Homo sapiens: one gene and its partners. The protein of the gene in region 5 purifies or fractionates together with the protein of the main gene of each other region. This does not show direct contact. Each region holds a gene or a part of one and is shown on either strand. Other genes may lie near its edges. The genes, in order: PKLR, ODR4, ANKRD13A, DNPEP and LRRC3B.

Region 1 (6,988 bases), on a different chromosome or scaffold from region 5:
CACGACCCTGCACTCCAGGCACTCAGCCTCATTGCAGCTCTTTGTCTCCTTGGCACCAAGCTTTTTCTTCCTCAGAGCCTTGGCATATATTATTTCTGCCCCCGCCCCGCCGCCATGGAAAACCCCTTTCTCCATTTGCCCCCACCGGTTCCTTCTCATCCTTCAAATTTCAGCTTCAAAATAATCACTTCAAAGAGGCCTTCCTCAACCATCTCATCTTGTCTAAAATATATCCTCTAGGTCAGGCATGGTGGCGTGCACCTGTAATCCCAGCTACTCAGGAAGCTGAGGCATGAGAATTGCTTGAACCCAGGAGGCAGAGGTGGCAGTGAGCTGAGATCGTGCCACTGCACTCCAGCCTAGGTGACAAGAGTGAAACTCCGCTTCCAAAAAAATAAATAAATAAAATAAAATACACCCTCTCTCTTCTCCCACTGGCTTCTGTGTTCCAGCACCCTGATCCACTACTTAGTAGCACTTGCAAGGTTTGTAGTTACATATTTATTTCTCTGATACTTGTTGATAGTCTGTCTCCCCACTATACTGTAAATCTCACAGAGGGCAAAGGCCCTGTCTGTTTTGCTCACTACTGTGTCCTTAGGGCCTGATACAGCGTAGGTGCTCGATAAAGATTGGACAGTGGGGAATGGGCAAATGGTAACTAATGAATGCTATGATGATGATGATGCTATCAAAGCCCTTCCAGAGAATCCCACCAGTTAGTATCAGCTGAACCCACAGCTAGTGTCACACCAAAAGTGGCATCAGGGCAGCACTCACAAAGGATGCCCCAAACCATCCCAAGATGGGGCTGGTTGGGATTCCAGTGAATGAAGCACTAAATGCCAGGGCAATCAGGCCAAAGCATACATTAGGGGAACTTACCTACAGAACAGCTACTGCACATCCTTGCTGTGGACAATGGGACAAAGGGTGTTCTACCCAGGTATGTTCTCAAGGAGGGGTTCGGGGTATGGTGTTTATAGGAGTGTTTAAGAAATTTGAAGCCAGTACTATGGCTCACACTTGTAATCCTGGCATTTTGGGAGACCAAGGCAGGAGGACCACTTGAGCATAGGTGTTCAAGACCAACCTGGGCAACAGAGTGACACCAGTCTCTACAAAAATAAAAAGTCAGCACCTGTGGAAAGAAAGGAAAAAAATATTTTTAATAAATAAAAATTTAAAAAGTAGCCAGGCATGGTGGTGCACACCTGTAGTACTGGCTACTTGGGAGGCTGAGGTGGGAGGATCGTTGGAGCCCAGGAAGTCAAGGCTACAGTGAGCCATGATCACACGAGTGCACTCCAGCCAGGGTGACAGAGTGAGACCCTTTAAAAAAAAAAGAAAGAAAACAAGGCTGGGCATGATGGCTCACACCTGTAATCCCACCAGTTTGAGAGGCCGAGGCTGGTGGATACTTGAGGCCAGGAGTTGGAGACCAGCCTGGACAACATGGTGAAACCCCATCTTTACTAAAAATACAAAAATTAGGCCAGGCACAGTGGCTCACACCTGTAATCCCAGCACTTTGGGAAGCTGTGGCGGGCAGATCACCTGAGGTCAGGAGTTCGAGACCAGCCTGACCAACATGGTGAAACCCCGTCTCTACTAAAAATACAAAAATTAGCCAGGCGTGGTGGTGCATGCCTGTAATCCCAGCTACTCAGGAGGCTGAGACAGGATAATCGCTTGAACCCAGGAGGCAGAAGTTGCAGTGAGCCAAGATCACGCCACTGCACTCCAACCTGGGCAACAGAGTCAGACTCAGTCTCAAAAAAAAAAAAAAAAAGAAAAGAAAAGAAAAAAGAAAAACAAAATTAGCTGGGTGTGGTGGTGCACGTCTGTAATCCCAGCTACTCGGTAGGCTGAGGCAGGAGGATCGCAGAGGTTGCAATGAACTGAGATTGCGCCACTGCACTCCAGCCTGGGCGACAGAGTGAGACTCTGTGAAAAAAAAAAGAAAAAAAAGAAAAAAGAAAAAGAAAAAAGGAAGGAAGGGAGGGAGGAAAGAAAATTTCCCTGGGGGTAGGAGTCTATAAGTTTAGCAAAATAGTCGATCTTTCAGTGTTTCCAGCAACAACCTAATCAAGTTTATCAGTGTCTGAGAATGTTCAAGGTACCATCTTGGGTTCAAACATGTAGGCGAAAACATGCAGCTGGCCAGGTTACAGAGTGGTGAAGGCACTCTGCATTTCTTGGTTGAGACAGAGAAAAAAAGTGGTCAGAACTGGGTAACCCTCCCCCCACCATATTATCACAGTGATCCCTTTTGTCTTTCTTCAGGCTCCAGCCCCACCCTACAGCCCCTGCTCCCTGGATTCACTAGAGCTAACTTCAGTAAAGTACAAAGAAAATGGGGCCATATGACTGGCCAAAAAAAAAATATCTATTCACGTGGATGACCAGATAGTATGAATGGATTGAAAATTTATCAGGAAAAAAGGATGAGAGGAAATGCCAGGAGATGAGGGCAGAGAGCAGGCCGTTCTGGGGGAGGGATTCTGTGGGGACAGGGTGGCCTACTGGGTGTGCCCCTTTTCTCTTCTCTGTCTCCCTTAGATAAGACCAGCAGTTTTGTCATCCTCTCCCTCTCATTCCATGGTCCCGCAGCCCCAGGCCCACACTGAAAGCATGTCGATCCAGGAGAACATATCATCCCTGCAGCTTCGGTCATGGGTCTCTAAGTCCCAAAGAGACTTAGCAAAGTCCATCCTGATTGGGGCTCCAGGAGGTAAGAAGGGGAGACAGAAGCCATGGAACATAGGAGGAAAATGAGGGTGAAAACTAGGAGCCAGGGTGGAGGGCATAAATGATCCACATCAGCCACTGGCTAGGTGGGTTTTGGAGAGGAACGTACGTTCTTCAGAGCCTCCCGTGTGTTAAATTATGGACCCTGGCCTGGGTCTTTTCCAGGCCCTATAGGCAGGCCAGAGCCACAGCATGTAAGCCACGGGGCACTCCCGTGGTTCCTGGACTCTGGCCCCTGGCATACAGGGCTTCCAATGGAACAGGAGACAGTGGTGACACTTTAACCAGTCTGCAGAACTGATCCCCAGCCCAGCTGGGCCTCATGCCTCTGACAACCCAACAGTGTGGAGCAGACCCACAGAGAGGGAGACCCAGAGAGGTGTGCAGTGGCATGGAAGGTGCGGCTGGAATCGGGGGCTCCTCTGAACTGGGATGGGTCAAGCTACAGGGACCTCTGTGTCTGTAGCAGCTTTGAGAAGCCTGGGGAGACTCAGAGGATGGGGTGGGGAAGCCAGCCAGTAGCCAGGGGTTGGAAGGGAGAAAACAGAGACCTTTGGAGCAGGAACTGGGTGATTCTGGGTCTGCATAGGGTGAGGCTGCTGGGGACTAGACATCAAGGGGTGGTGGGGTTGAGGGTCATCAGTAGCTGCAGGTCGGGGGGTCCTGGGTTGTGCGGGGTCAGTATAACTGAGTGGTCAAGAACTTGGGCTAGAGTTAGTCAGACCTAGATTTGAATCCTAGCTGATCCATACTTAGAAGCTGTATAATATTGGACCATTTATTTCCTGTTTCTCAGCCTCTGTTTCTTTATCCATAAAATTGGATAATTATAGAACATTTAACAGTACCTGCTTTATAGGATCCTTGTGACATAATAAAATAATATATGCATGATGCCCAGCTCATAAGAAGGGAAGGAACAGAGGGTATGCTGAGAGACGAAGGCATGGGGAGGAAGGGCAGGTGACATGCAGTCCCTGAGCCCCCTTCTACCACAGGGCCAGCGGGGTATCTGCGGCGGGCCAGTGTGGCCCAACTGACCCAGGAGCTGGGCACTGCCTTCTTCCAGCAGCAGCAGCTGCCAGCTGCTATGGCAGACACCTTCCTGGAACACCTCTGCCTACTGGACATTGACTCCGAGCCCGTGGCTGCTCGCAGTACCAGCATCATTGCCACCATCGGTAAGCACTCCCATCCCCCTGCAGCCACACAGGGCCTATTGGTATTTCTTGAGGTGCTTCTTCATCTTTTGTCTCCTTTGAGACTTCTCCATGTTTGACACAGTCATTCATTTAACAAAAATTTGTTGAGCATATAGTAGACAAGATTTTGGGCCCTGGGAGTAGATCAGTGAAAAAAACAGACAAAAATCCCTACCCTTGGGGAGCTGACAGTCTAGCTGAGTATGACAATAAATAGTAAGCACAATAAATTATTTAAAATAAGTAAATTATTTATTCCGTTAGAAAGTGAGGCCGGGCATGGTGGCTCATGCCTGTAATCGCAGCATGTTGGGAGGCCCAGGTGGGCAGATCACTTGAGGTCAGGAGTTCGAGACTAGCCTGACCAACATGGAGAAACCCCGTCTCTACTAAAAATACAAAATTAGCCGGGCATGGTGGTGCGTGCCTGCAATCCCAGCTACTCAGGAGGCTGAGGCAGGAGAATCGCTTGAACCCAGGAGGCGGAGACTGTGGTGAGCCGAGATCACACCATTGCATTCCAGCCTGGGCAACAGGAGAAAAACTCCATCTCACAAAAAAAAAAAAAAAAAAAAAAAAAAAAAAGTGGGCTGGGCTCAGTGGCTCATGCCTGTAATCCCAGCACTTTAGGAGGCCAAGGTTGGCAGATCGCTTGAGCCCAGGAGTTTGAGACCAGTCTGGGTAAATGGCAAAACCCATCTCTACAAAAAATACAAAACTTAGTTGAGTGTGGTGGTGCATGCCTGTAGTCCCAGCTACTCAGGAGGCTGAGGTGGGAGGATCACTTAAGCCCAGGAGGTCACGGCTGCAGTGAGTCATGATCGAGCCACTGTACTCCAGCCTAGGTGACAGACGAGACCCTAGAGAGAAAGAGAGAAAGAAAGAAAGAAGGAAAGAAAGAAAGAAAGAGAGAGAGAAAGAAGGAAGGAAGGAAGGAGGGAGGGAGGGAGGGAAGGAAGGAAGGAAAGAAAGCAAGCAGGCAAGAAAGAAAGAAAGAAAAGAAAGAAGGAAGGAAGGAAGGAAGGAAAGAAAGAAAGAAAGAGAAAGAAAGAAAGAAAGAAAGAAAGAAAGAAAGAAAGAAAGAAAGAAAGAAAGAAAGAAAGAAAGAAAGAAAGAAAGAAAGGAGTGAAAGTTGGCCGGGCATGGTGGCTCTTGCCTATAATCCCAGCACTTTGGGAGGCTGAGGCAGGTGGATCACCTGAGGTCAGGGGTCCGAGACCAGCCTGGCTAATGTGGTGAAACTCTGTTTCTACTAAAAATACAAAAAATTAGCCAGGCATGGTGGCATGTGCCTATAATCCCAGCTACTCGGGAGGCTGAGGCAGGGGAATCGCTTGAACCCGGGAGACAGAGATTGCAGTGAGCCAAGATCACGCCATTGCACTCCAGTTTGGGCAACAAGAGCGAAACTCTGTTTGTTTGTTTGTTTGTTTTTAAAAAAAGAAAAAAAAGCTGGGCGCGGTGGCTCACGCCTGTAATCCCAGCACTTTGGGAGGCCGAGGCGGGCGGATCACCTGAGGTCAGGAGTTCGAGACCAGCCTCAACATGGAGAAACCCCGTCTCTACTAAAAATACAAAAAATTATCCGGGCATGGTGGTGCATGCCTGTAATCCCAGCTACTCAGGAGGCTAAGGCAGGAGAATTGCTTGAACCTGGGAGGCGGAGGTTGCGGTGAGCCAAGATCGTGCCATTGCACCCCAGCCTGGGCAACAAGAGCGAAACTCCGTCTCAAAAAAAAAAAAGGCCAGGCGTGGTGTTTCATGCCTGTAATCCCAGCACTTTGGGAGGCCGAGGCAGACTGATCACGAGGTCAAGAGATCGATACCATCCTGGCCAACATGGTGAAACCCCGTCTCTAATAAAAATACAAAAATTAGCTGGGCGTGGTGGCACATGCCTGTAGTCCCAGCTACTCGGAAGGCTGAGGCAGGAGAATCACTTGAACTGGAAGGCAGGGAGCAGAGATCGCACCTCTGTCCTCCAGCCTGGTGACAGAGCGAGATTCCATCTAAAAAAAAAAGAAAAGAAAAGAAAGAAAAAGTGAAAGTTTTAAGTGCTATGGGGAAAGAAATCAAGTGTGATAAGGGCATCAGGAGTACGAGGGTGAAGACAGGTTGCAGCCCTAAATAGGGAGGTCAGTTATTATTGAGTAAATGAGACCAAAGGGAAGACTTGAAGGAGATGAGAGAATTAGCCATGCAGAGACCTGGGGGAAGAGAATTCCAGGAAGAAGGATCAGTCAGTGTCAAGGCCTAAGTCAAGAAGGTTAGAAGAGCTAGAAACCATCAAGGGGGAAGAGCGGCAGACATGAAGAGACTGTGTACGGACAGGAAGATCAGGTGCAGCTTTGTAGGCCATTTTTAGAATTTGAGTTGCGTTTTCCTCCGAGTGAAATGAGAAACTGCTGCAGGGTTTTGAGCAGGGGAATGACAAGCTCTTATTTATGTTTTAATAGAGCCTCCCCTCCCCTGCTGCTGCACTGAAAATAGATGGGGGGTGGGGGGAAGGGTGCCCCTGCAGTATTTCTGGCTCAGACCAGTTGGCGGCAGTGAGGTGGTGAGAAGTGGTCAGATTCTGAATGTATTTTGCAGGTAGAGCTGACAGGATTTGCTAATTGATCGGATATGGGGTATGGAGTGTGGGCGAGAAAGAAAGGAGTCAAAGGTGACAGGTGACTCTGAGGTTTTTGCCATAAGGAACTGGAACGATGCATTAGCCACTGAGCAGGAAAGACTGTGGTGGAAGGGGTTGGGGGGAGAGCAGAAGTTTGCTTGGGACATGTTGAGTCTGAGATGCTTATTAGCCATCCAAATGTGATAGAGGGGGCAGTCAGGTACACAACTCTGGGTTTGGGAGAAAGGTCTGGATTGGAGAGACATTTGGGAGTTGGCTACATATAGATGGTATCTCAAGCCATGAGACTAGTTGAGACCACCAAAGGAGTGTAGGTGAAATGACGGAGAAGAGAACAGGGTATCTAACGTTAAGGGGAGGAACAAGGAAAGGAGACTGGGAAAGAGCAGCTAGTGAGGTA
Region 2 (6,200 bases), on a different chromosome or scaffold from region 5:
TAGGAAGTTTAATTGAGATGGCATTGTATCTGAAAGATTTCCATGTTGTGTTTCTGTTAAGAATGGACTTACACGCTGGGCCAAGGAAATAGAAAATGGTGTTTATTTGATTAATGGACAAGTTAAAGATGAAGATTGTGACCTATTAGAAGGACAGGTAAGTTAAGAGAAAATCATCTTATTAAATTGTTAGTGCTTAAGGAAAAATAAAACATGACTTATTTTTAGTCCTTGCCTACAAGAAAACTGATTTCATCTACCTCTCATTTCTGATTTCTGATTTAAAGTAAAAGGCAAATGTTTTTCTTAGAAAAACAACCTCATTAAAAAGTAGGCAGAGGATATGAACAGACACTTTTCAAAAGAAGACATACATGCAGCCAAGAATCGTATGAAAAAAAACTCAGCATTACTATCGGTAGAGAAACACAAATGAAAACCACAATGAGATACCATCTCACACCAGTCAGAATCGCTGTTATTAAAAAGTCAAAAAATAACAGATGCTGGCAAGGCTGCAGAGAAAAAGGAATGCTTATAAACCGTTGGTGGGAGTATAAATAAGTTCAACCATTGTGGAAGGCAGTGTGTTGATTCCTCAAAGACCTAAAAACAGAGATACCATTTGACCCAGCAATCCTATTACTGGCTATACCCTCAAAGGAATATAAATTGTTTTATTGTAAAGACACATGCATGCATTATGTTCATTGCAGCACTATTCACAATAGCAAAGACATGGAATCAACCTAAATGCCCATCAATGACAGACTAGATAATGAAAATGTGGTACATATACACCATGGAATACTGTGCAGCCATTAAAACAGAACGAGATCATGTCCTTTGCAGGAACATGGATGGAGCTGGAGGCCTTTATCCTTAGAAAACGAATGCAGGGGCCAGGCATGGTGGCTCATGTCTGTAATCCCAGCACTTTGGGGGGCCGAGGTGGGTGGGTCACTTGAGGTCAGGAGTTTGAGACCAGCCTGGTCAACATGGTGAAACCCTGTGTCTACTAAAAATACAAAAGTTAGCTGGGCATTGGTGGCAGGTGCCTGTAATTGCAGCTACTTGGGAGGCAGGGGCCAGGCGTGGTGGCTCATGCCTGTAATCCCAGCACTTTGAGGGGCCAAGGTGGGCAGATCACTTGAGGTCAGGAGTTCAAGACCAGCCTGGTCAGCATGGTGAAACCCTGTCTCTACTAAAAATAACAAAAATTAGCCGGGTGTGGTGGCAGGTGCCTGTAAGCACAAGCTACTCGGGGTGCTGAGGCAGAAGAATGGCTTGAACCTGGGAGGTGGAGGTTGCATTGAGCCGAGATCGTGCCACTGCACTCCAGCCTTTGGCTACAGAGTAAGACTCCATTTCAAAATAAAAGAAAAGGAAAAGAAGAAAACTAACAGAGGAACAGAAAACCAAATACCGTATGTTCTGACTTATAAGTGGGAGCCAAATGATGAAAACACATGGACACATAGAGGGGAAAAACACACACTAAAAGGAGGGAGAAGGAGAGGATCAGGAAAAATAAATAATGGGTACTAGGTTTAATACCTGGGTGATGAAATAATCCGTATATCAAACCCCCATGACTGAAGTTTATCTGTGTAACAAATCTGCACATGTACTCATGAACTTAAAAGTTAAAAAATAAGTCCAGGAAAAAAAAGAAAATGATGTAATTGGAATCCTGAAACTTTACAGGAGTGTCATCTGAATTTCATCTGATTTCCAAATTGTAAACTGCTGACCTGCAACCAAAGGCCACATGTTGTTCTGCCCTGATGACAGTTCAAAAGCTATGGCCATTTTATAAAAGAGGTTTATAGAGGCTTCTAAAATAGCTTTGACCTGAAGGAAGCGGAACTTTTGTGATCTCTCACTTTTTAAAGCAGGGATCAGCAAACTTTATGTGAAGAGAAAAATACTACATATTTAGATTTCACAGGCTGTATTTTTATCTCTACTGTGTAGCATGAAAGCAGCTACAGGAGATACATAAGTGAATGATCCTGGTTGCATACCGGTAAAACTTTATTTACAAAGATGAGTGGCAATGTGGGTATTTGCCCACAGGCAGTGGTTTGCCAGTTGTTGCTTTAGAGGAATGAAAGTATGGAATTAATTGTTTTAAAGAGTGTACATTGATACAGAATACATAAAGTAATATCTATATAAAAAGCTAAATTAAAATAATTAAAAGACTTGTTTTTTTCTAAGTTACTTAGTATATGTACAATAGTTTATAAGTTGTCTTTTATGTTTTACAGGCTTCACAGTTTGGCTTTTTAACTTTTGTGTTTTTTCAGAAAAAATCTTCTAGAGGAAATACTCAAGCAACTAGTCATTCTTTTGATGTCAGAGTGCTAACGCAGTTGGTAAATATTTTAAAATAACACTTAAAATATTTATTAGCATAACCATAATGAAACTGTTTCTGTTTTTATTTTTCTCATTAGAGAATAAAAGGATTTTAGAGCTGTAAGAGACTGTATGAAATGGCTGGTTATAGGAAGGTTATTCCCAAGAAACATCATTTTAATAAAACCTGTTTGGGTTTTTTGCCTCAAGGATATTAAAATTTTAACATCAATAGATAGCAGTTTAAAAAAATATGTACACATACATGCATACATATACATGTATGTATGTGTACATATTTTGGGTTGTAGCTTTTATAGTTAAAGTTGCAATTTTAACAACTTAAAAGATGTGTACACAGAGGTGCAAAGAGTTGTCATATGCTTATTTTGAAGTAGATTAATTAGATTTATACCCCCTGATTTGATAAAAATCACAAAGTATTAATTAGCAAGTTTTATATTTATGTATGGTTGCTTTAATTTACACGTCTTTTCGAAAATTTAAAAGTTGGATATCTTAAAGAATAAAAAGTTAAAGCCACTAATTATTCCTAAAAATACATACCTTTGATTTTAATCCTACTTGAAATTATCCTAAAGAACAGACAAGGGTATAAAATAGCAAACGCGTGTTTGTAGGAAACTTTATTTCAATATTATACTGGATTTTGAAACAGAAATACTCTCAGGACTTGTGTTTTTTTGAACTGAATAGAATAGAATTAAAAGCAATTTGGCATTTGAGGATGTTTTAGTTTCTTCTTTTTCTGTGTGTAGCAATAGCGCATTAGTAAATTGTCTTTGGGCCTATGCCACTCAATGTGAGTTCTCAATTTCATTTTTCAATACCTTAGAGGTATTTTAGTCTCTGATTTTCTACTTTGTCTTGATTTTAGAAGTGTCCTTTGTTTTGAGGCTGGCTATTCCACTACTTATGTGCTTTTCACTAGTTAGGCTTACTTCATGGTTTATTAAACAATTTGGTTAAGATTATTTTATTAGTAGTATAAAATTGTAGTTGGGAGATGTATAGAGTGTGGGAATATAGAGAGATGAGTGGAAGATAATCTCATGAGATAATTTATTGTAGTAGTAATATTATTGTTATTTTTGAGACGGAGTCTCGCTCTGTCTCCCAGGCTGGAGTGCAGTGGTGCGATCTCGGCTCACTGCAAGCTCTGCCTCCTGGGTTCACGCCATTCTCCTGCCTCAGCCTCCTGAGTAGCTGGGACTACAGGCGCCTGCCACCACACCTGGCTAATTTTTTGTATTTTTAGTAGAGACGGGTTTCACTGTGTTAGCCAGGGTGGTCTCAATCTCCTGACCATATGATCCGCCTGCCTCGGCCTCCCAAAGTGCTGGGATTACAGGCGTGAGCCACCGCGCCTGGCCAGGTGTAGTAATAATATTATATAGTATAATATATTTTTGGTAGTCACTCCACCGATCACCTAACTGGAAATTTTGAAGTGACTAATATACAGTAAGTAGTCAGTAAGTATTTATTGCCACTTTTCTCCCAGTTAAGTCTTATTGATTCCTTATTTGTAGTATTAAGCTTTTCTTTTATTTTCCATACAGTCCTGCTGTCATTAGCCTTACAACAGTATTATTTTACCTAAACTAGCACAAGTAGCCCTTAACTGGTCTCTCTTCATCTATACATTCTTGTCCAAAGTGATTGTTTCTCTAAATCCCTTCTACCTTTGTTAGTATATCTCTTGAAATACTTTCCATTTATCTACTCTATCCTGTTTATACACTCAGATGATCATTTCTGAATCATAGTTTATGTTCAGTTATTAATTTTTTTCAAGAAGTATTTATTGAGTTTGTACAACAGCCGGACACTGATTATGGTACTCCTTGCTCAAAATTTCTTAAGTGTTCTGTACTGACTAGTTAGAGAAGTCCAACTCAGGGTTCTTCATAGCCTCAGCATACCTTTTTGTTCTTATTTTCTACCTCTTATTTTCTAGATGTATGCTTGCCATACCTTTAAAGCTCTGTATTTCCTGAACTATGTATCATGTCTTTGCTCTTTTCTCTGTCACCCAAACTGTCAAAATCCTATCTGTACATTAAGATCTAGCCCAAATGCCACTACTTGTGTAAGATTTCATTTGGTTCCCATAGAAATGGGGATCTTCTCTTTTTCAAATGCCATGTCAGCATCATAGAAGTTCCCTCACCTATAGGCTGTTTGGCAGCCAGGTTATTCCTAAGTCCAAATAACCAAGAGGAGTTTACATTTGTAGACCCCAACTGGTCTACATTTCCACCTAAAAGGAATGAGTCAGACCTTACATTCTTTAAAACTTTTCCTGGCTGAGCATGGTAGCTCATGCCTGTAATCCCAGCACTTTGGGAGGCCTAGGCAGGGTGATCGCTTGAGCCTAGGAGTTCAAGATGAGTCTGAGCAACAAGTGAAACCCTGTCTCTACAAAAAAATACAAAAATTAGCTGGGGGTGATGGTGTGTGCCTGTAGTCCCAGCTACTTGGGAGGCGAAGGTGGGAGGATCGATTGAGCCTAGGAGCTTGAGGCTGCAGTGAGCTCTGATAGCATCACTGTACTCTAGGCTGGATGACAGAACAAGACCCTGCCTCAAACAAAACAAAATAAAACTAACCAACCAACCAAAAAAATACCTCTTTTCTTTAATATGTGTGTGTATAGTCTTTAATAGTCTAGTCTGTTTTGGATAACAATGCCATAATTATAGATAGATAGATAGATAGATAGATAGATAGATAGATATATGTATATACACACATACACATATATTTACATATACTAATATATAAATGTGTTATATGTTAAAAATATATAAATTATATGTTAAATATGTAAAATAGGACATTCTTTTTAGAGTAGTTTTGTCTACAATAAAAAGTTATGGAGTAGATAGGGGAAGCCTGTTACTCCTCCTCCAACCCCACCTTATTGATGTATCAATGAACTCTACATGTGTCATATGGAAGCTTATTCCAGACATTGTATCAGCATCGTCACACTGCTGCTTGGTTTGATGATAGCCATTTTTGAATGGACCCAGGACCTTTGGAGCTGTGTGGTCTGTGGCAAATTTTTTGTCAACAAGTCCTTGACCATCTTAAAGTTTAAATTGTTTAACAACACCTAGAAGATTTACATTGCCTTAGACATTGCTTGAATTACACTAGACATCAATAATGCTCTTTCAATAGCTATGCATGTCAGTATTCTCCTCTTCATTATTTTTCCGCATTTATTCCTGATTGCATAAGCACATAGGCACAAAGCACTTTTCACAAGTTGTATGATTTGACTTTTGTTCTTCAGAATTGATTTGGTTGTTGAATGACTTATACTCCAAGTGTTCTTAGAACATAAATTACTTCCTTACCATTTCCATTTTTTGGTTATTTTTTGTAAATCATTATTTTTTGTTTCCACTGTTATTATAGGCCTCTATTACAGGTTGAGTGTGCCTTATTTGAAATGCTTAGGACCAGAAGTGTTTTGGGTTTGGGATTTTTTTTAGATTTTGTAATATTTGCAGAATACATACCAGTTGAGCATCTCTAAGCCAAAAATCTAAAATCTTATATGCTCCAATTACCTTTTCCTTTGAACATCACATTGGTGCTCAATAAGTTTTGGATTTTGGAGCATTCAGGATTTTTAGATTAGGGATGCTCAACCTGTAGTACTTTAACTATTTTGATACTGTCCTTGTTTTTGGCACTTATTAAGATGATGGGGTTGAAAATATATGTGAAACACCTGAAAACCGAACAAGAGCACTGGCATTCCTTAGACTAAAGAGGATGGGACTAGTCTATGAAAGTTT
Region 3 (6,200 bases), on a different chromosome or scaffold from region 5:
GCCCGGGCTGGAGTGCAATGGTGCGATCTCGGCTCACTGCAACCTCCGCCTCCTGGGTTCAAGCGATTCTTCTGCCTCAGCCCCCCAAGTAACTGAGATTACAGGGATGCACCACCACGCCCGGCTAATTTTGTATTTTTAGTAGAGATGGGGTTTCTCCATGTTGGTCAGGCTGGTCTCAAACTCCCGACCTCAGGTGATCCGCCCGCCTCAGCCTCCCAAAGTGCTGGGATTACAGGTGTGAGCCACCACGCCTGGCTGAGAAACTCTGCTTTTAAAGTCTCCCAACAATTCTGGGAGGTATTGGTGCCCTCAAGTTTCAAGCTAACAAACTTAGCAGTTAGGATGAGGATTTGTGATTACCCCTGAAATCTAGTATGGTTGTTCTTGTTGACTTCATACATTTTATCCAGTGTCTTACAGACCTGGTTTTTGAATGGCTCAAAATTGGTGCTATAATTGTCAAGAAATTGTAGAGGAAGAGGAGGATTGTTTGTCTTATGGTTGACAAAAATTGAGAAGGTTAGCATTACTCCATTTGGTGAATGGGTGCTGCAAGCTGTGTGCTTGCAACCTGCCATATTTAAGGTGGTTGAGCCCTCACCGAAGTCCAAAATTACCCTCTTTTCTTTTCTGTTTCTTTTTTTTTTTTTTTCTTTTTGAGATGGAGTCTCGCTCTGTCATTCAGACTTGAGTGCAGTGGCGCGATCTCAGGTCACTGCAACCTTCGCCTCCCGGGTTCCAGCGATTCTCCTGCCTCAGCCTCCTCAGTAGCTGGGATTACAGGCTAATTTTTGTATTTTTAGTGGAGGTGGTATTTTGTCATGTTGGCCATGCTGGTTTCAACCCCTGGCCTCAAGCAATCCGCCCACCTCTACCTCCCAAAGTGCTGGGATTACAGGCATGAGCCACTGTTGCCGGCCTTTTTTCATTTAAAAAGAATTCCAGATACGATAAACTTTTGTGAGAGTCATCGTTCTTAATTAGATGACAGACCAACTATTTAAGAGTTAAGGAGATATGACACATGCCCTCAGACTAAATGATTCACCATTAGGCATTTTAGTATACTGATCATTTAATTCCTTTTCTATTACTAGACATGGTACAGAGGTAAAAACTGTAAGACTCAGCTAGGACACTTTAAAAATGACCAGTTTTGGTTTTTAGGAATCTACTTCTTTTGGTGCCCAGGCTGGTCTTGAACTCTTGTACTCAAGTGATCTGCCCGCCTCAGCCTCCCAAAGTGCTGGGATTACAGGCATGAGCCACTGTGCCTTGCCCAAATCCTGTATTCTTAACCCCTACTATACTTCTTTCAGTAAAAATGACTTCATTTCAAGATTATGGAGAATAAATAAGGAAGATAATGGACCTGAAAGTGCAGGCATATGGTAATTGGAAACAATATTTACTAGTAGCTGCTGCTATTATAATCATCATTTGTAAACCTGGGGATTGAGCTTTTTTGCTCTATATTCCAGTTTTTCTGCAAGGAAGATGTATTGATTGCATAATTAAAAACAAAAAATTCTTAAGTCCGGGCACGGTGGCTCATGCCTGGAATCTCAGCACTTTGGGAGGCTGAGGCAGGCAGATCGCCTGAGGTCAGGAGTTGGAGACCAGCCTGACCAACACGGTGAAACCCCGTCTCTACTAAAAATACAAAAATAGCTGGATGTGGTGGCACGTGCTTGTAATCCCAGCTACTCAGGAGGTTGAGGCAGGAGAATCGCTTGAATCCAGGAGGCTGAGGTTGCAGTGAGCCAAGATCGTGCCACTGCACTCCAGGCTGGGAGACAGAGCGAGGCTCCGACTCAAAAAACAAAAAAAACCCAAAAAATTCTTATCACCCCAGCAATAAAGTGGCTGTTTCCCTTAATGTTTTGTTTGCTGGTGAGTTTCTGCTGTCAGTTTCCTCATTCCGTCTATCACCTGATTGAGACTTGGAGCATGTATACTGATAGCTGTAAGAATTTTTTTCCAGGTTTTTTGTTCCTGTTCCAGGAACAGCAACACAAGAAAGAATCAAGTTTATCCAGATGAAGAGGATAAGCACGTGTTTCTGTGTGTGTGAGCCAGCCCCAATCCCACTGTCTCACTAATAGCAGGCAGTTGTGTAACTATGCCAACTACCAGATTGTTTCAGGCCTTCATTTGATCAGCAGAGGCATTTAATAAAGTGCCTCTTAACCCATCAGCTCATTAATATTCAGTGGGGCCTTGAAGTTGGTTGCTGAAGTTGAAACTGTTTGTGTTCTGCTTATGTCGTTGGCCGCTTAGCTAAAGAAGTCTGTTAAACTTCTTTGGCCTTCTTACTGATGGTGAGACATGAACACTTAAGGGGACAGATGCAAAGGTGAGTCAGTGTACCTTAGACAGGGTTGGAAAACCTGGGTTGTGTGAGGTGGAGGGTGGCAAATGAGGCCTGACTCTAGAGCCAGGCTCCCTGTTTAGGAAGCCAGCAGGTGAAAAGTATAGCACCTAGGTAAGAGGAGGACATTCCTGGGGTTCTCACTCCAGCCTGGGGCAGGCCAGGTGAGGCCCCGGGCACAGATTCAAATCGCTGAGCCATGGGCTAGGCATCCAAGATGAAGAGCCTAGAGCCTGCTCTCCTCATGTGCCCCCTTGGTCATCGGGGGTTCAAGCTCACCTTAGGAAACTGGCCTCAAGATTCCTGTTTCCACTGACTCAGCGTGGGGGCCACACAGGACCAGGATGGTCTGAGAGTGAAGAGGAGTGAGGGTGGTTGTCTGTGTTGAGAGAGAGGAGGACTAGCCAGCAGCCTCTTGCTGGAGTCCCCCTAAAGGTGACAGTGAGTTTATGAAGCACTTCCTGCATGCCAGGTACCAAGGCACAGGGGAACTGATAATTCACCTGAGGCTAGTGGGCAAGCTGGAAGGGGTGTCCAGTTGTCTGGTTCTGCAGCCTGGCCTCAGAGCTCGGCAGGAGGATGGCAAGATAGTAAAGAGGGCTTTTGATTGAGGAGGCTGAGGTGGGGTCAGTGCTTGAGGACAGGAGTTCAAGACCAGCCTGGCCAATATAGTAAGACTCCGTCTCCTTAAAAAAAAATTTTTTTTGGCTGGGCACGGTGGCTCACGCCTGTACTCCCAGCTCTTTGGGAGGCCAAGGCAGGTGGATCATGAGGTCAGGAGTTCAAGACTAGCCTGGCCAACATAGTGAAACCCCATCTTTGCTAAAAATATGAAAAATTAGCTGGGCATGGTGGCGGGTGCTTGTAATCCCAGCTACTTGGGAGGCTGAGGTGGGAGAATCGCTTGAACCTGGGAGGCGGAGGTTGCAGTGAGCCAAAATCGCACCATTGCACTCTAGGCCCGGCAACAGTATGAGACTCCATCTCAAAAAAAAAATAAATTTTTTTTAAGGCTTTTGAGCAAGAAAAGTGGATGAGCTGAAATGAGCAAATAGGAAGGAAACTCCTAGTTAAAGGAGGATGGGTATTTTTATTTGGGTATAGCTCATGGCTAAAGAAACTTAAAAGGAAAACCTAAATGATCAGTTTCGAAAGTGAATTCCAGCCGGGCGTGGTGGCTCAGGCCTGTAATCCCAGCACTTTGGGAGGCCGAGGTGGGCGGATCACCTGAGGTCGGGAGTTCGAGACCAACCTGACCAACACAGAGAAACCCCGTCTCTACTAAAAATACAAAATTAGCCAGGCGTGGTGGTGCATGCCTGTAATCCCAGCTACCCGGGAGGCTGAGGCAGGAGAATTGCTTGAACCTGGGAGGCAGAGGTTGCAGTGAGCCAAGATCTCGGTGAGCTAAGATTGCACCATTGCACTCCAGCCTGGGCAACAAGAGGGAGACTCTGTCTCAAAAGAAAAAGTGAATTCCAGCTAAATTCTGAAACTCCTTGTTCTCTGAACTCATATTATTAGTTGAAGATTCTAAGCCCCACTAATAACTGTAATGCAATTTGAGCAAATCCCTTTTAGGGAGAAAGTGACAGCTATATGAAACTACATAGTGTGGGCGTATGATAATAACAGGTAACTCTTCTCAGCACTTACTGTGGTGTCAAGCACCGTGCTAAGTTAAGGACTTTCCCCTTGTAAGAACTGTAAGGTAGGTTTTTTTTATTGTTCAGTTTTACAAGCGAGCAAACTGAAGCTCAGGAGGAATTAAGCAACTTGTCAAACAGTACATGAGAGATTCGTTTTATGTATTATGTATAAACATATACAGATTGATTTTTTCAAAAGATTTTTATTGCGATATAGTTCACTTATATAATCTACATTTAAAGGTTATTCAATGGTTTTTAGTATATCTGCTGAGTTATGCAACTATCACTACTGTCAAATTTCAGAAATTTTTTTCTTTTTCTTTCTTTTTTGTTTTTTTGTTGTTTTTGAGACAGGGTCTCACTCTCTTGCCTAGGCTGGCACCATCACAGCTCACTGCACCCTTGACCTTCTCGGCTTAAGCAATCCTCCCACCTCAGCCTCCCAAATAGCTAGGACTGCAAGCAAGCACTACCACGCTTGGCTAATTTTTAAAGATTTTTTTGTAGAGAAAATGTGTCCCTATGTTGCCCAGACTGGGCTCAAGCAGTCCTCCTGCCTTGGCCTGCCAAAGTGCTAAGATTACAGGTGTTAGCCACTGCACCCACCCTGTAATATTTTCCTCACCCGAAAAAGAAACCCCATACCTGTAGTAGTCACTCCTCATTTCTCCCCAACCCCTCCAGCCCAGGCAACCTGCTAACCTACTTCCTGTCTCTAGATTTGCCTATTCTGGACATTTCATATAAATAGAATCATATGTGGCCTTTTGTTTCTTCTTTTACTTAGCATAATGTTTTGGAGGTTCATCTACGTTGTGGCATGTTTCAGGTGCTTAATTCCTTTTTATCACTGAATATATTCCATTGCATGGATGTACTATGTTTTGTTTGTTAGACGAAAATGTTTCTCCGTTTGTCAGTTGATGGACATTTGGGTTGTCGCCACTTTTTGGCTATTATGAGTAACGCTGCTGTGTGTATTTGTGTATATGTTTTTGTGGGTTTCCTTTTTTTTGAGACAGCTTGCTTTGTTGCCCAGGCTGGAGTGCAGTGGCATGATCTCAGCTCTCTGCAACCTCTGCCTCCTGGGTTTAAGCGATTCTCCTGTCTCAGCCTCCCTAGTAGCTGGGATTACAGGTGTGCACCACCACGCCTGGCTAATTTTTGTATTTTTAGTAGAGATGGGGTTTCACCATGTTGGCCAGGCTGGTCTTGAACTCCTGACCTCAAGTGATCAGCCCACCTTGGCCTCCCAAAGTTCTGGGATTACAGGCATGAGCCACTGCACCCAGCCCCATGTATAAGTTTTTGTATGGGTATATGTTTTCATTTATCTTGGGTATATACCTTGGAGAGGAATTGCTGGGTCATGTAGTTACTCTATGTTTTAACTTTTTGCGGAACTGCCAGCAATTTTTCGAAGTGGCTGCACTATTTTACATTTCCACCAGCAGTGTATGAGATTCCAGTTTCTTCACATCCTTGTCAACACTTGGTATTATCTGTTGTTTTGTTTGTACGCATCCTAGTGGGTGTGAAGTGGCATCTCATTGTGGTTTTGATTCGCATTTCTCTTATGATTAATGATGTTGAGCATCTTTTCATGTGCTTATTGGCAATTTGTGTATCTTCCTTGGAGAAATGTCATCTCAAATCCTTTGCCCATTTAAAAATTGAGTTATTTGACTTGTTGAGTTGTAAAGGTTCTTTGCATATTCTGGATAGTAGGCCCTTATCAGTATGTGATTTGCAAATATTTTCTCCCATTCCATGGGTTGTCTTTTTTTTTTTGAGATGGAGTTTCGCTCTTGTTGCCTAGGCTGGAGTGCAATGGTGTGATCTCGGCTTACCACAACCTCCGCCTCCCAGGTTCAAGCAATTTTCCTGCCTCAGCCTCCCGAGTAGCTGGGATTACAGGCATGCGCCACCATGCCTGGCTAATTTTGTATTTTTAGTAGAGATGGAGTTTCTCCATGTTGATCAGGCTGATCTCGAACTCCCTACCTCAGGTGATCCTCCCGCCTTGGCCTCCCAAAGTGCTGGGATTATAGGGATGAGCCAATGAGCTCAGCCAAAATTTTGTTCTTTTGCATGTAGATATGCAGTTGTTCAAGCGGCACTTGTTGAAAGGACAGTTCTTTCCCAATGAATTATTTTGGCACCCTTGTTGAAAA
Region 4 (5,885 bases), on a different chromosome or scaffold from region 5:
CTACAAACCTGTACGGCTTCTTACTGTGCTGAAAACTGTAGGTAACTGTAACAAAATGGTCAGTGTATCTAAACATAGAAAAGGTACAGAAGGCCAGGCGTGTTGGCTCACACCTGTAATCCCAGCATTTTGGGAGGCCAAGACAGGCAGATCACTTGAGGTCAGGAGTTCAAAACCAGCCTGGCCAACATGGTGAAACCCCATCCTACCAAAAAATACAAAAATTAGGCAGGCGGAGTGGTGCATGCCTGTAGTCCCAGCTACTTGGGAGGCCTTCCCTACTTGGGAAGGATCTCTTGAGCCCGGGAGGTGGACGTTGCAGTGAGCCGAGATCGTGCCATTGCACTCCAGCCTGGGCGACAGAGTGAGACCCTGTCTCCAAAAAAACAAAACCAAAAAAAAAAAAAAAAGAAAAGAAAAAGAAAAGTTACAGGAAGCATATGGTATAAAAGATTTAAAATGGTCCACCTGTATAGGGCACTTAGGAATGGAGCTTACGGCACTCGAAGTTGCCCTGGGTGAGTGGTGAGTTAATGTGAAGGCCTAGGACATTACTGTACACTATTGCAGACTTTATCAATGCCGGACACTTAGGCTACACTACATTTATTTTGAAAATTGTATTTCTTCAACAATAAATTAGTTTACTGTAACTTTTTAACTTTATTTATTTATTTATTTATTTATTTATTTTTGAGATGGAGTCTCACTCTGTCACCCAGGCTGGAGTGCAGTGGCACGATCTCGGCTCACTGCAACCTCTGCCTCCCAGGTTCAAGCGATTCTGCCTCAGCCTCCTGAATAGCTGGGATTACAGGCACGCACCACCATGCCTGGCTAATTTTTGTATTTTTAGTAGAGACGGGGTTTCACCATGTTGGTCAGGCTGGTCTCGAACTCCTGACCTTGTGATCCGCCCGCCTCGGCCTCCCAAAGTGTTGGGATTACAGGTGTGAGCCACTGCACCCGGCCAACTTTTTTACTTTATAACCTTCCATTTTTAAAATTTTTGACTCCTTTGTAACAACAGTTGGCTTAAAACACAAACACATAGTACAGCTATTCAAAAGTATTTTCTTTTTTGTATCCTTATTCTGTAAGCTTTTTTCTATTTTTAAAATTTTTCGTTATTTTTAAAATTTTTAAACTTTTTGGTTAAAAACCAAGACACAAACATACACATTAGCCTAGGCCTATACAGGGTCAGGATTATCAATGTCCCTGTCTTCCACCTCCACATCTTGTCTCACTGGAAGGTCTTCAGGGAGAGTGACATGCAGGGAGCTGCTATCTACCATGATAACAATGTGCTCCTAAAGGACCTGCCTGAGGCTGTTTTACAGTTAACTTTTTTTTTTTTTTCTAATAAGTAGGAGTACATTCTAAAATAACAGTAGGCTGGGCATCGTGGCTCATGCCTGTAATCCCAGCACTTTGGGAGGCCGAGGCGGGTGGATCACTTGAGGTCAGGAGTTCAAAACCAGCTGGCCAACATGGTGAAACCCCGTCTCTACTGAAAATACAAAAATTATCTGGGCATGGTGGTGTGCGCCTGTAATCCCAGCTACTCAGGAGGCTGAGACAGGAGAATCGCTTGAACCCAAGAGGCAGAGGTTGCAGGGAGCCAAGATGGTGCCATTGCACTCCAGCCTGGGCGACAAGAGTGAAACTCCATCTCAAAATAAATAAATAACAATAAAAAGCATAATATAGTAAACACATAAACCATAACATAGTCATTTATTATTCTTAGGTATTGCATACTGTACATAATTGCACGTGTTATGCTTTTATACGACTGGCAGTAGATTTATTTACGCCGGCATCGCCACAAACAAGTGAGTCATGCATTATGCCACAACATCGCAACAGCTGTGATGTCACTAGGCGACAGGAATTTTTCAGCTCCATTATAATCTTACGGGACCACTGTCATATGTAGTCTATCTTTGACTGAAATGTCACCATGTAGTGCATGACTGTCTATTTCTATATTTATCTGTCTACCTCTCTATATCAGGGACTCAGGCATGGGCGGTCCAGTGACAATCATAGCAGGTGTAGAACCGTGGTATCCTGACTCCCAGCCCAGGGCTCTTTCTGCTGCACAGTGTTCACTCTTCCTTTCGGAAAGCTGAATTGTTCTGCCCCCAGGAAGCCTTCTCTGAGGACGTGATATTTGAGCTGAGACCTAACCACTGAGAAATAGGCAGCTATGGGAGGGTCCCAGCCAGAGGGCACAAGTAGAAAGGCCCCAAGGGGGGCCAGGAATGAGCTCGTCTTTTAGGAGGAGAGAAAGGCAGGATGGTAGAGCCAGGATGAGAGCAGGAGAGGGTTAGGGGAGAGGCCCAGCTCAGTGATGATACAGGAATACCTAGGCCATGGAAGGACATTTCAATTTTATTCTAAGGCAGTGAGAAGACATTGGGAGATTTTTCTTTAATAATTTACAGCAGAAGTAGGACACATGTATTTTAGAAAATTAGAAAATACAGATAGAGATGAGAAAATAAAACACTAATCTGCAGAAATTTGGTATAGTCTTCCAGATTTTTTTCTATGCATAAACTTCATATACACTTTTTTAAAATGATATTATATTGGATATATTTTTGTTGCCTCTTTTCACTCAGTCATCTTCACCTTTCTATTTGAGTTTGGTTTTTTTTTTTAATGTTTTTTTAAAATTAGAAACAGGGTCTTGCTTTGTCTCCCAGGCTGGAGTGCAGTGGCATGATCATAGCTCACTGCACCCTCAAACTCCTGAGCTCAGAAGATCTTCCTGCCTCAGTCTCCCAAGTAGCTGGGACTACAGATGCATGCCACCATGCTGGCTAATTTTCTATTTTTAGTAAAAATGGGGTTCTTGCTATGTTGCCCAGGCTGGTCTTGAACTCCTGGCTTCAAGCAGTCCTCCCACCTTGGCCTCCCAAAGTGCTAGGATTACAGGCATGAGCCACCATTCCCAACCCCATTTCAGGAAATTGTTGTTTCAGTAAACTTGTACCTCATCTAATGCACAGATCACTTTCCGTTTTCCCCAGTTATCCTCAAAATATTTTTTTTACAGGTATTTGGCCCACCCTAGTATCCAACTCAGGACAATGCGTTATATTTGGCTGATATGTTGCTTAAATGTCTTCCAGTGTAGCACAGTTCCCCCCACCCCTTTTTAAATAGCATTGGCTTATTCAAGAAACTTCTGGATATGTCTCCTTGCTGCCCCATGGTGTCATTTAGCTTGTCTGTAAGCCCCGTATTTCCTATCAACTGGAATTTCTAAAGACTTGATGGATTCAAGTTAAACTTTTTTTTTTTTTTTTTTTTTTTTTTTTGACAGAGTGAGAGTTTCACTCTGTCGCCCAGGCTGGAGTCTAATGGCGTGATCTCGGCTCATTGCAACCTCCGCCTCCCTGGTTCAAGTGATCCTTCTGTCTCAGCCTCCAAAGTAGCTGGGATTACAAGTGTGCACCACGATGCCCAGCTAATTTTTGTATTTTTAGTAGAGACAGGGTTTCACCATATTGGCCAGACTGGTCTTGAACTCCTGACCTCAAGTGGTCCGCCCACCTCAGCCTCCCAAAGTGCTGGGATTACAGGTGTGAGCCACCGTGCCTAGCCTCAAGTTAAACATTTTGGGCTAGAAGACATGGCTGGTGTATTCATATGGCATCACACACATGATATCTGGGTGGGCCACCCTTAGCCTTGCAAAGATTGACCACTGGACCAGGAATGGCCTCTTATCCTTTCATTATATAGTGCTTTTCCCCTATTGACCTGACAGTGACCCATACAAGTGATGAGTTCCCTATTAACCAGATACCTAATGGTTTTAACACTTACAATAATCCTTGTCTAAATCAGTAATTTCATTAGAATTTACCGAAAAATGCCCGCTTCCCCTGAATTCTTTCAGTCTTCCATTCTTCTGTGAAGTGGAACTTCTTCCCTCCAATCAACTAGGGTTCTTTGGTTATCATGGAATATCATTCCTATTGATTGGAAAGCAGGATAAATGCTAATTCTTTCTGTTATCCACTTTTCAAGGTGAAATGTCGTCTCAAATAGTGACAAAGAAAGATTTTTCCTTTTCCTTTTTTTTTCTTTTTCTTTTTTTTTTTTTAGACAGGGTCTCGCTCTGTTGCCCAGGCTGGAGTGTAGTGTCGCAATCTCAGCTCACTGCAACCTCCTCCCCACAGGTGCAAGAGAGTCTCATACCTCAGCCACCTGAGTAGCTGGGATTACAGGCATGCACCACCATGCCCGGCTGTTTCTTGTATTTTTAATAGATACAGGGTTTCACCATGTTGGCCAGGCTGGTCTTGAACTCCTGGAATCATGTGATCTGCACACCTTGGCCTCCCAAAGTGCTGGGATTACAGGCGTGAGCCAGCACACCTGGCCTGCTTTTCCCTTTCTGACTATCTTAGAATCATGGAATTTCATTTATTCAGTGTCCTCTATAATTATTATATTTGATTTGTGAATTGCCATGGCTTTGACCAGTGGGAGCCCCTTCAGCATAACTCCTGTGCCCTTTGACTCTTGGAAGTCTCCTTGCTTTTTGGCACAACAAAAATTGTAGACATGTCTTGTTCATTTCGCCCCCCAGACTTGGTAGTTTTTGGCAAGCAGTGGTATTAGAGACCATAGCCTGGCACTGCAAGTGTTCATTGTTCTTGGGGGAGGGGACGGTGCTTTGGGTCCATTTCCATGGACATAGCAAGAAAAAAGTACATATTTTAAAAATCATGAAGCCAGGTGTGGTAGCTCAGGCCTGTAATCCCAGCACTTTGAGAGGTAGTGGATCACTTGAAGTCAGAAGTTCGAGAACAGCCTGGCCAATATGGCAAAATCTCGTCTCTACTGAAAATACAATAATTAGCTGAACGTGGTGGTGCGTGCCTGTAATCCCAGCTACTTGGGAGGCTGAGACAGGAGAATCGCTTGAACCCAGGAGGCAGAGGTTGCAGCGAGCTGAGATTGCGCCACTGCACTCCAGCCTGGGCATCGCAGGGAGACTCCATCTCAAAATAAATAAATAAAATAAAATAAAAATTTTTAAATAAAAATCATGAGTTAATACTGTAATTCTTATTCATAAAATTATTCTTATTTAGTTAAATAGTTACTACCTATTTGATTTTGTAATTCTGTTTTCTCTTACACTGAAAACCTTGATATCTAGCATCATATTTTCATTTTCTTATTTTTTTACCATAATATAAAGAAAATCATTTCAAAATGTCAGTAGCAATATTTTTAAAGACACTGATACCACTGAGTGATTTTTTTCTGTGAGTGTGGATATTAAGCAAGAGGGTGACAAGGATGGATACTTTTAAAAATCCCCCTTCCTGCTGTGTGGAGAATGGATTGGAACTAGGGTGGTGGCAATGCAGATAGAATGGGACCAATTCAGAATATATTGTCCTTTGGGGTCTGCCATTTAGCATTGGCTTTGATTTTATGCTCCGAATGGACCATCTCCCAGGCCCCTTCCCACCCTGCAATTCTAAGATGGCGTCCTCCTTGGCTCTGATAAGCACACACTGCATGTTGCTCATGGGTCTCCTGCTCTCCCTAGGATCTCATGGTCCGGAATGACACCCCCTGTGGAACCACCATTGGACCTATCTTGGCTTCTCGGCTGGGGCTGCGGGTGCTGGATTTAGGCAGCCCCCAACTGGCCATGCACTCTATCCGGGAGATGGCCTGCACCACAGGAGTCCTCCAGACCCTCACCCTCTTCAAGGTAACACCCACCCCAGACCCTCTCTGGCAGCTGGGCTGCTTCCCCTCTAGTGCCTGGATTGGTTGCTGGGACAACATCGCCATCACAAAGTGACTGGCCTGAGTAATGGGGGCTGGTTGTCATGCTG
Region 5 (6,200 bases):
GATGTTTCCACAGCCGCAGTGTAGGAAGGGGACTCCTGCCTCCCAGGGGGAGACGTGTGTGCGGGGTAGAGGGGAGTCCCCAGCGCGCGGCGAGTAAACAGGGGTCCAAAGTGGTTGGAGGAGAGCGCAGGAGCGGAGGCTGCGGTGGGAGCCACTTTCCCCCGCCCCTCCACAAATCGCACCTGGGCGGAGCGAGGGAGTGGGGGGAGCCCTGTGCTGCGCCCGGGAGGCTGGGGAGCGCAGAGCTGGAGGGCGTGCAGGGAAACGCAGAGCTAGGAGGTGTGGGCCTCGGGTGAGGGGAGACCCAGCTCTTAGACCTGGGAGCCCAGACAGAGGTGGATCTGCCCACCTTGCAGCTCCCAGGTAGATTCTTCTTGTGGCTCCAGATGCTCTGGCGAATGCAGGAGGGGGAGGCTCTTTTCTCCTTTGCACCCCAGCAATCTGGAGTGCAAGACCGTTTGCGGGAGGGGGCTTAGTCGGCTGTTTCGAAGAGGCAGCCTCCCCTCCCTTTTATCCATCAAGCCCCCTATTTCCTGGTGGGGGCACAGTGACTGCCAAGGCCAGTAAGCACCTCACTTAACCCTTCTCTCCCTGAGGAGGTGCATGCTCCTCTCCCAGAGGTGCCTTTGGCTGAGAGTGGATCCCTGGTTCCTAGTAGCCCTATAGGGAAACATTTGGAGGTTGGGTGGGTTTGGAACCCTGTACAACCTTTAGGTCCTCCCTGTTCAGACCTTCCACGTGCAGGCTTTTCTTACTTTCTCCGCGGGTGCCCTACAGAGGACTCCTGCTGCCTTGTACCAGTTGGGAAAAAGCAAAATTCAGAGCAGTTCCTTTTTCTGGGTCCCTCGCCTTGGCCACATCGGAGGAAACGTCGACTCGCCAGGGCTCCCGGGAGAAATCCCGAGGTCAGTCCCTCCCATTCTGGGGCACCCCTGGAGCAGCTAGCTCCCTGCCTAGCGGTGGCAAACTCCAGAGCCCCAAGGAGCAGAACGGGGATTCCCTGTGCGCAGGCTCCTGGTGCAGCTCCTGAGCACAAAGGCCACACCCTCACAGACCAGGCCTGGTGAGAGAGCCGGGCTTCTTCAGAAGTACCTGGATACCTGAGGTAGGATCCTAGACTTGAAACTCGCACTCCACGAGATTTAGCTCTGACCCCCCCAAGGCTCATTTCTTTCTGGGTGCTTATCTATCGCCTGAATTTGCGCTCTGGCCACTTCTTTTTGCATGTAGAAACAAATTAGACCATGTTCCTTGGCAACTTGAGGAAAGACTCCAAATCCACACCAAGGTGGATTTATTTCAGGTTGCTGAACTGTTCTGGGGAGACAAATAGTAATGTAACAATCAGTGCTAGCTAGCAGTTGTGGAGTTCTTACTATGTGCCAGACACTATCTTTGATGTTGTGTGTGTTTGTGTTAGATTTAACCCTCACAACAACCCTGAAAAATGGGTAGAGTTATTTATCTCATGTTATAGATGGAGAAACCCAGTATTGAAGAATTCAAGTTATTTGCTTATTGACATTCAGCCAGGAAATGGTGGGGCTGAGTGGTCTGGTGATCAGAGAACACTGAGTGTGTCCCATACTCCCAGCCCTATTTGGTACTAAAAACCATTTGTCTGGAAGGAAGCATGAGTGAGGCCCCTCACCCTTTACTCCAAACTGCAGCGGCGTACTATAAGTGCCAGTCCTGGCCTGTGAGCCCCTGTGACTAGAGTATTAGGGAGACTGATGTTACATATCGCCTGTCTCAAAGTTTGTTGGGGTACACCTTGGTATAGTGGAATACTAGTAGAGGAAATCGATTTGGAGAACTGGCTACTGGTAATGGACTTCTCTTCTGAACCTTTTGTAGACATTCCCTTTTTAAATAGGAAGGTAAATGGAAGGAGGGATCCAAATATGAACAGAGATTTGCTCTGTAGTCAAAAACTAGAGGCAGTTTTATGTAGCAGTTGTATTCTGCAAATGAAAGCCTCTCTCTGAATTGAGTCACATAATTAGTTAGAGCTAAGAGGGATCTCAGATATTATCCCACCCAATCCAGACTCAGGGAGGAGATTCAATGCTGAGCTCAAGGCCATTTGGTGCATTTGTAGCATAACTAATGCTGGAACCACTGCCTTTTGACCCTTGCTCAAATATGGTACCATTATACATAAATAAATTATGCTCACTCCTGCTGTTTTTTTAACATCTTAAAATTAATTAGGAAAAGGCTTTTTATTTTTAAAAAGACTGTTTTGCTTATTTTCGTATAAATGCTTCTCAATCAGCATAACCAGAAAAACTCTATATCATATATAATGAATAAGCTACCACAAATGTGACTCTTTTTGCAAAAATAAAACATTGCAGAATATTTGTAAGCCTTCAAATCAACAAAAATTAACTATGCAAACCTCTGGATGATTCTAAATAAGATTAAATGATTTCTAATGATTTTAGCAGTCTTCTGTTAGATTGAGTTGCTTCATCCTTCTGCACTCCCAGGTATTTGTGAAAATAACAGGGAATTTTTCCTATCACAGGAAACATTCTTTTGAATACAGTGGCATAAATTCTTGGATTTCTCCTGGATTCTTGACTTTTCATTAAAGTTTATGCTGATGTAAAGCTGAGGCAAAACAATATATTTCTGTACTTGGGGCTCAGAAAGAGGAAAAATAGTTCTTTGTCACTTCCGATAATATTTGCCACTTCCTCGCCTACCTGGCCCCTTCAACAAAGGGGACTTTCTGCAGTCACTTGAGGATTTCATATACCTTTAAGCGTTTTTGTGGGACAAAGTTCTAGTTTCCAAGAACACCTCATGTCTTTTCTCTGTAGCTGTAGTACCAGGATGTCCTCCCCTTGGAGACAAACCAACAAAAAGTCAGCCAGGGTAAACAGGGAGGAGGGATAGAAGAATCCTGTTTTTCAGAATCAGATCAGCGGGGCAAGAGTCATAGACAGATAGTGGAAACCTGGTGCCTTTTAGGTCACCTGGAATAGGATTTCCATCTCTAATGCTGTGGCACACTAGGACCTAGGCCATCCTATAGTGAGGACCTAGGCCATCCTATAGTGGAGGAAGAAAAGAAGAGAGTGAGGCAACAATATTGTCAGAGGAGGGATGAGGTGGAGGAAGATGGAGGTGAGGCTTGGCTGCTGAGGCACCCAAGTGTGACCAAAATGCCCACAGAGAGCCAACGTGCACTAAGAGCTGCTCCTCCTCTTCCTTTTTTTCCTACCCTCGACCTCAGTCTGCGTTTTGTGTCAGGTTGACTGTTCTGAATCCCCAAGACCCCAGTTATCTCAAGGAGAAGCATTCATTTTCCGGAGAATTCATTAGAAGTCAATTTTGTTTTTATGCAAGTAGGAAAAACTTGCACAGCTGCCCCACTCTTCAGGAAGAGCCATTCAAAACCAGATCATCCAGAAGGGTGACCTTCTGGAGGTGGGGATACCGGCTTAGTTGAGTTGCAGCAGTGTTAAAGAAAAGAGACATAACACTGAAGTTAAGTGTGACAATATCCAAAAGAAATGGTCTATGTCCTAGGAACCACAGGAAGGGGAATCCTTTGGAACCTGGGCAGACATTCTGGTTTCCAATTCCCAGTTTATTCAGGGGAGCTCTATCCTCATCTTACTTATGTGGTCCAATCCCCTCTACTTATTTTACTGTGGCTGCTAGGTGGTGCAATATCAAAAGTCCCACATGACACGTCTGCTGGGGAGATTCTTTGGGGTGTACCTTTATCTTAAATCATATAAATATGAGTTCATTGACATTTAGAATAACAATTATTATTAAGCAATATGCTCTAAGACAAAGGATATGGAAAAATAAAAACTTTTATTCAGAACACAATGAATAGATATGTTTATACAATACATAGTATGAGTTAAAAGTCTTGGGTAAGATATTTGAAAAAAAATAATCAAGATTCGGAATATCTGATCTTGATTAATTTTAATAGCAAGAGAAGCTAAATAATAAGGTTCTGTAGAAAGAGTTTGAAGAAGATACTGGAAAAAAAAAAAAAAAAGCTCAGAGTAGGACCTGAGAAGCTTTACCCTTATTGATTTTATTTAAAAAAATATAAAATATCTTAATCTATATTTAGATTTGAATAATCCATAAGATTAATAAATTTTGTATTCATTTTATTATCTGAAGATTGTGACTTTGATGAACTTTATTTGATAAATGGTTTGGAGCCATGATGGAAGCTCTGAGATGTTAGTATATATCTACATATACTTTATAAAAACTTAGTGAATTAATACATCTCAACATGATAATGACATATGAAATGGCCATTTCATATGAGAATGAAATCTGGAATCTTCTCAAAAGCTGATAGGCTTGAACATACTATTTCTCCACCACAGGTGGTAAGTTAATAGTAAGGGCCATTTAGTTCTTTCAAAATAGATAAATGAGTAAATACTAAAAAAAAAAAAAAAAAATCCTCCACAAATAAAAACAGATTTTATTCTTTAGGAGGATAAATGAACAGATTAGGAAAGGTTATGAAATTTACAGTTTCATTTGATCCTAAGCTCTCTAAGCTACCTTTTATGTTAATACTTGTCCAGTGCAAATGTCACTACCTTTTCAGACAGTTTAAAAAATGCTTTAGGTGCCTTTTATTAGAAATAAAATGGAAACAAATATTATTTAAAAATGTGAAGCTATTCTCAACCATGGAGTAATATTTGACAAAGTGGTAAGTATGTTTTCAAATACAGATTAGTTTCCTTTTATTCTCTTTTCCTCCTCTACCCCTCCCCCTCCCTCCCTGCGTCCTTCCTTCCTTCCCTCCCTCACTCCCTCCCACTCTTCCTCCCTTCCTTCCTTTCTTCCTTTCTTCCCTTCTTCCTTCCAATTTTAGGTCATTGATAGAAGAAGTATTCAGTAACTTACTGGGAGAGACTGCTATAATATTTCAGGACAAATACGTCCTCTGGCGAGGACAGTGCTGAAGGCACAGTGCATAGTTCTCTAAAGCTAAAGCACAAAGGTCATGAGGTCTCATGGCTTTCCCCTGAGTCTTCTAACCTGAGCTCTGATTTGGAGAAATAATCATTGTATAGGCCTGCTACAGAGGGCTCCCCCTGTTAGCGGTGACTAAGCAGTATGCTTTCCCTATGCTGCACTGGGAATTTATACACTGAGAAGAGTCCTGGTCCAGGCTGCTGATCTTCTCTAGATGTCTGGCCATCAGGGATTATTAAGTGGAATACTTTTCACCCTTTCCACAATTATATTTAAGCTTAGGGTTTCAAAGTTTTTATTTTCCTGCTGCTATGTGTTGTGTGGTTTTTTATTGGGGTGGCTAGTTTGTTATTTTAACTGTGGCTCAGAAACAGTGTCTGTTAGTAAACTGAAAATGATTCCCAAAGGGAAGATGTACTGTGGACTGTTGATACCCAATGTTTCTGCTACAAAACCTGTGAAAGGGGTATGGTGTGTGGCCAGCCAAGTCAGGAGGGCCAAGCAATTGGCAGCAGACAACAGCAGAGAAAGGTGGGAAAGGTGGGGGCAGGAGAGAAAGAGGTGTAAGAGAAGCATGGCAAAAAAAAAAAAAAAAAAAATCTATCCAAAGGAAGAGAACCCAATACTTAGCACAGTAAGACTAAGAGATATCTGATAGTAAACCTAAACCAAAGGATAAGGGGAAAAAAAAATCCCATAAGAATAAGAGAAGACAAAAAAAAGAGAATGGGAGTAATAAAGACTGAAAGAAGAGGGCTTATAAGGAAGAGGAATGTACTAAATAATACCTCATAGCATAGATCAGTTCAAAGGCAGCCTAGCTCCCCAGCCAGAGGGCAAGGTCTCTTTCTCACATATCAGAGTGCCACATTAATGTGGCTTTATCAATCTCCAGGCCAAGGTCTTCTACTCTGATTTACTCCATAGTGCCCTTTGACAGTCTGACAAAGCCTGCGGGCCCTGGAATGGTGTTTAAATGCATAAAATATAATACATAAGATTATAGCACAAACCAATTTTATTGAAATATCTGTTTATCGACTTATAAAAGAAACCACTGTTACTAATATATGTGCCTCTTACATAATAATGCCTCTATAACAAGATCTTGTAGTGGGACTAGTGGCTACTATTGTTTCGAAGTAGGAATGGGCATAAATGCTACTATGAGATAACTGTGGCAGCTGTATTGTGATATGAAAATATTTATATTG

Evidence for each region.
Region 1: the proteins of LRRC3B (region 5) and PKLR purify together in Homo sapiens (affinity purification with mass spectrometry; one large-scale study listed by BioGRID and IntAct). This does not show direct contact.
Region 2: the proteins of LRRC3B (region 5) and ODR4 purify together in Homo sapiens (affinity purification with mass spectrometry; one large-scale study listed by BioGRID and IntAct). This does not show direct contact.
Region 3: the proteins of LRRC3B (region 5) and ANKRD13A purify together in Homo sapiens (affinity purification with mass spectrometry; one large-scale study listed by BioGRID and IntAct). This does not show direct contact.
Region 4: the proteins of LRRC3B (region 5) and DNPEP purify together in Homo sapiens (affinity purification with mass spectrometry; one large-scale study listed by BioGRID and IntAct). This does not show direct contact.

The regions. Positions count from the first base shown.
Region 1 is NC_000001.11:155,297,042-155,304,029, reverse strand, and holds the start of PKLR (pyruvate kinase PKLR), read left to right. Parts: upstream 1-2,591; 5' UTR 2,592-2,634; coding exon 2,635-2,734; intron 2,735-3,077; exon of another isoform or gene 3,078-3,142; coding exon of another isoform or gene 3,143-3,149; intron 3,150-3,749; coding exon 3,750-3,932; intron 3,933-6,988. UniProt on the Homo sapiens protein: Pyruvate kinase that catalyzes the conversion of phosphoenolpyruvate to pyruvate with the synthesis of ATP, and which plays a key role in glycolysis.
Region 2 is NC_000001.11:186,391,635-186,397,834, forward strand, and holds part of ODR4 (protein odr-4 homolog), read left to right. Parts: intron 1-61; coding exon 62-157; intron 158-2,312; coding exon 2,313-2,381; intron 2,382-6,200. UniProt on the Homo sapiens protein: May play a role in the trafficking of a subset of G-protein coupled receptors.
Region 3 is NC_000012.12:110,000,797-110,006,996, forward strand, and holds part of ANKRD13A (ankyrin repeat domain-containing protein 13A), read left to right. Parts: intron 1-6,200. UniProt on the Homo sapiens protein: Ubiquitin-binding protein that specifically recognizes and binds 'Lys-63'-linked ubiquitin. Does not bind 'Lys-48'-linked ubiquitin.
Region 4 is NC_000002.12:219,374,728-219,380,612, reverse strand, and holds part of DNPEP (aspartyl aminopeptidase), read left to right. Parts: intron 1-5,590; coding exon 5,591-5,758; intron 5,759-5,885.
Region 5 is NC_000003.12:26,624,407-26,630,606, forward strand, and holds part of LRRC3B (leucine-rich repeat-containing protein 3B precursor), read left to right. Parts: intron 1-239; exon of another isoform or gene 240-1,105; intron 1,106-6,200.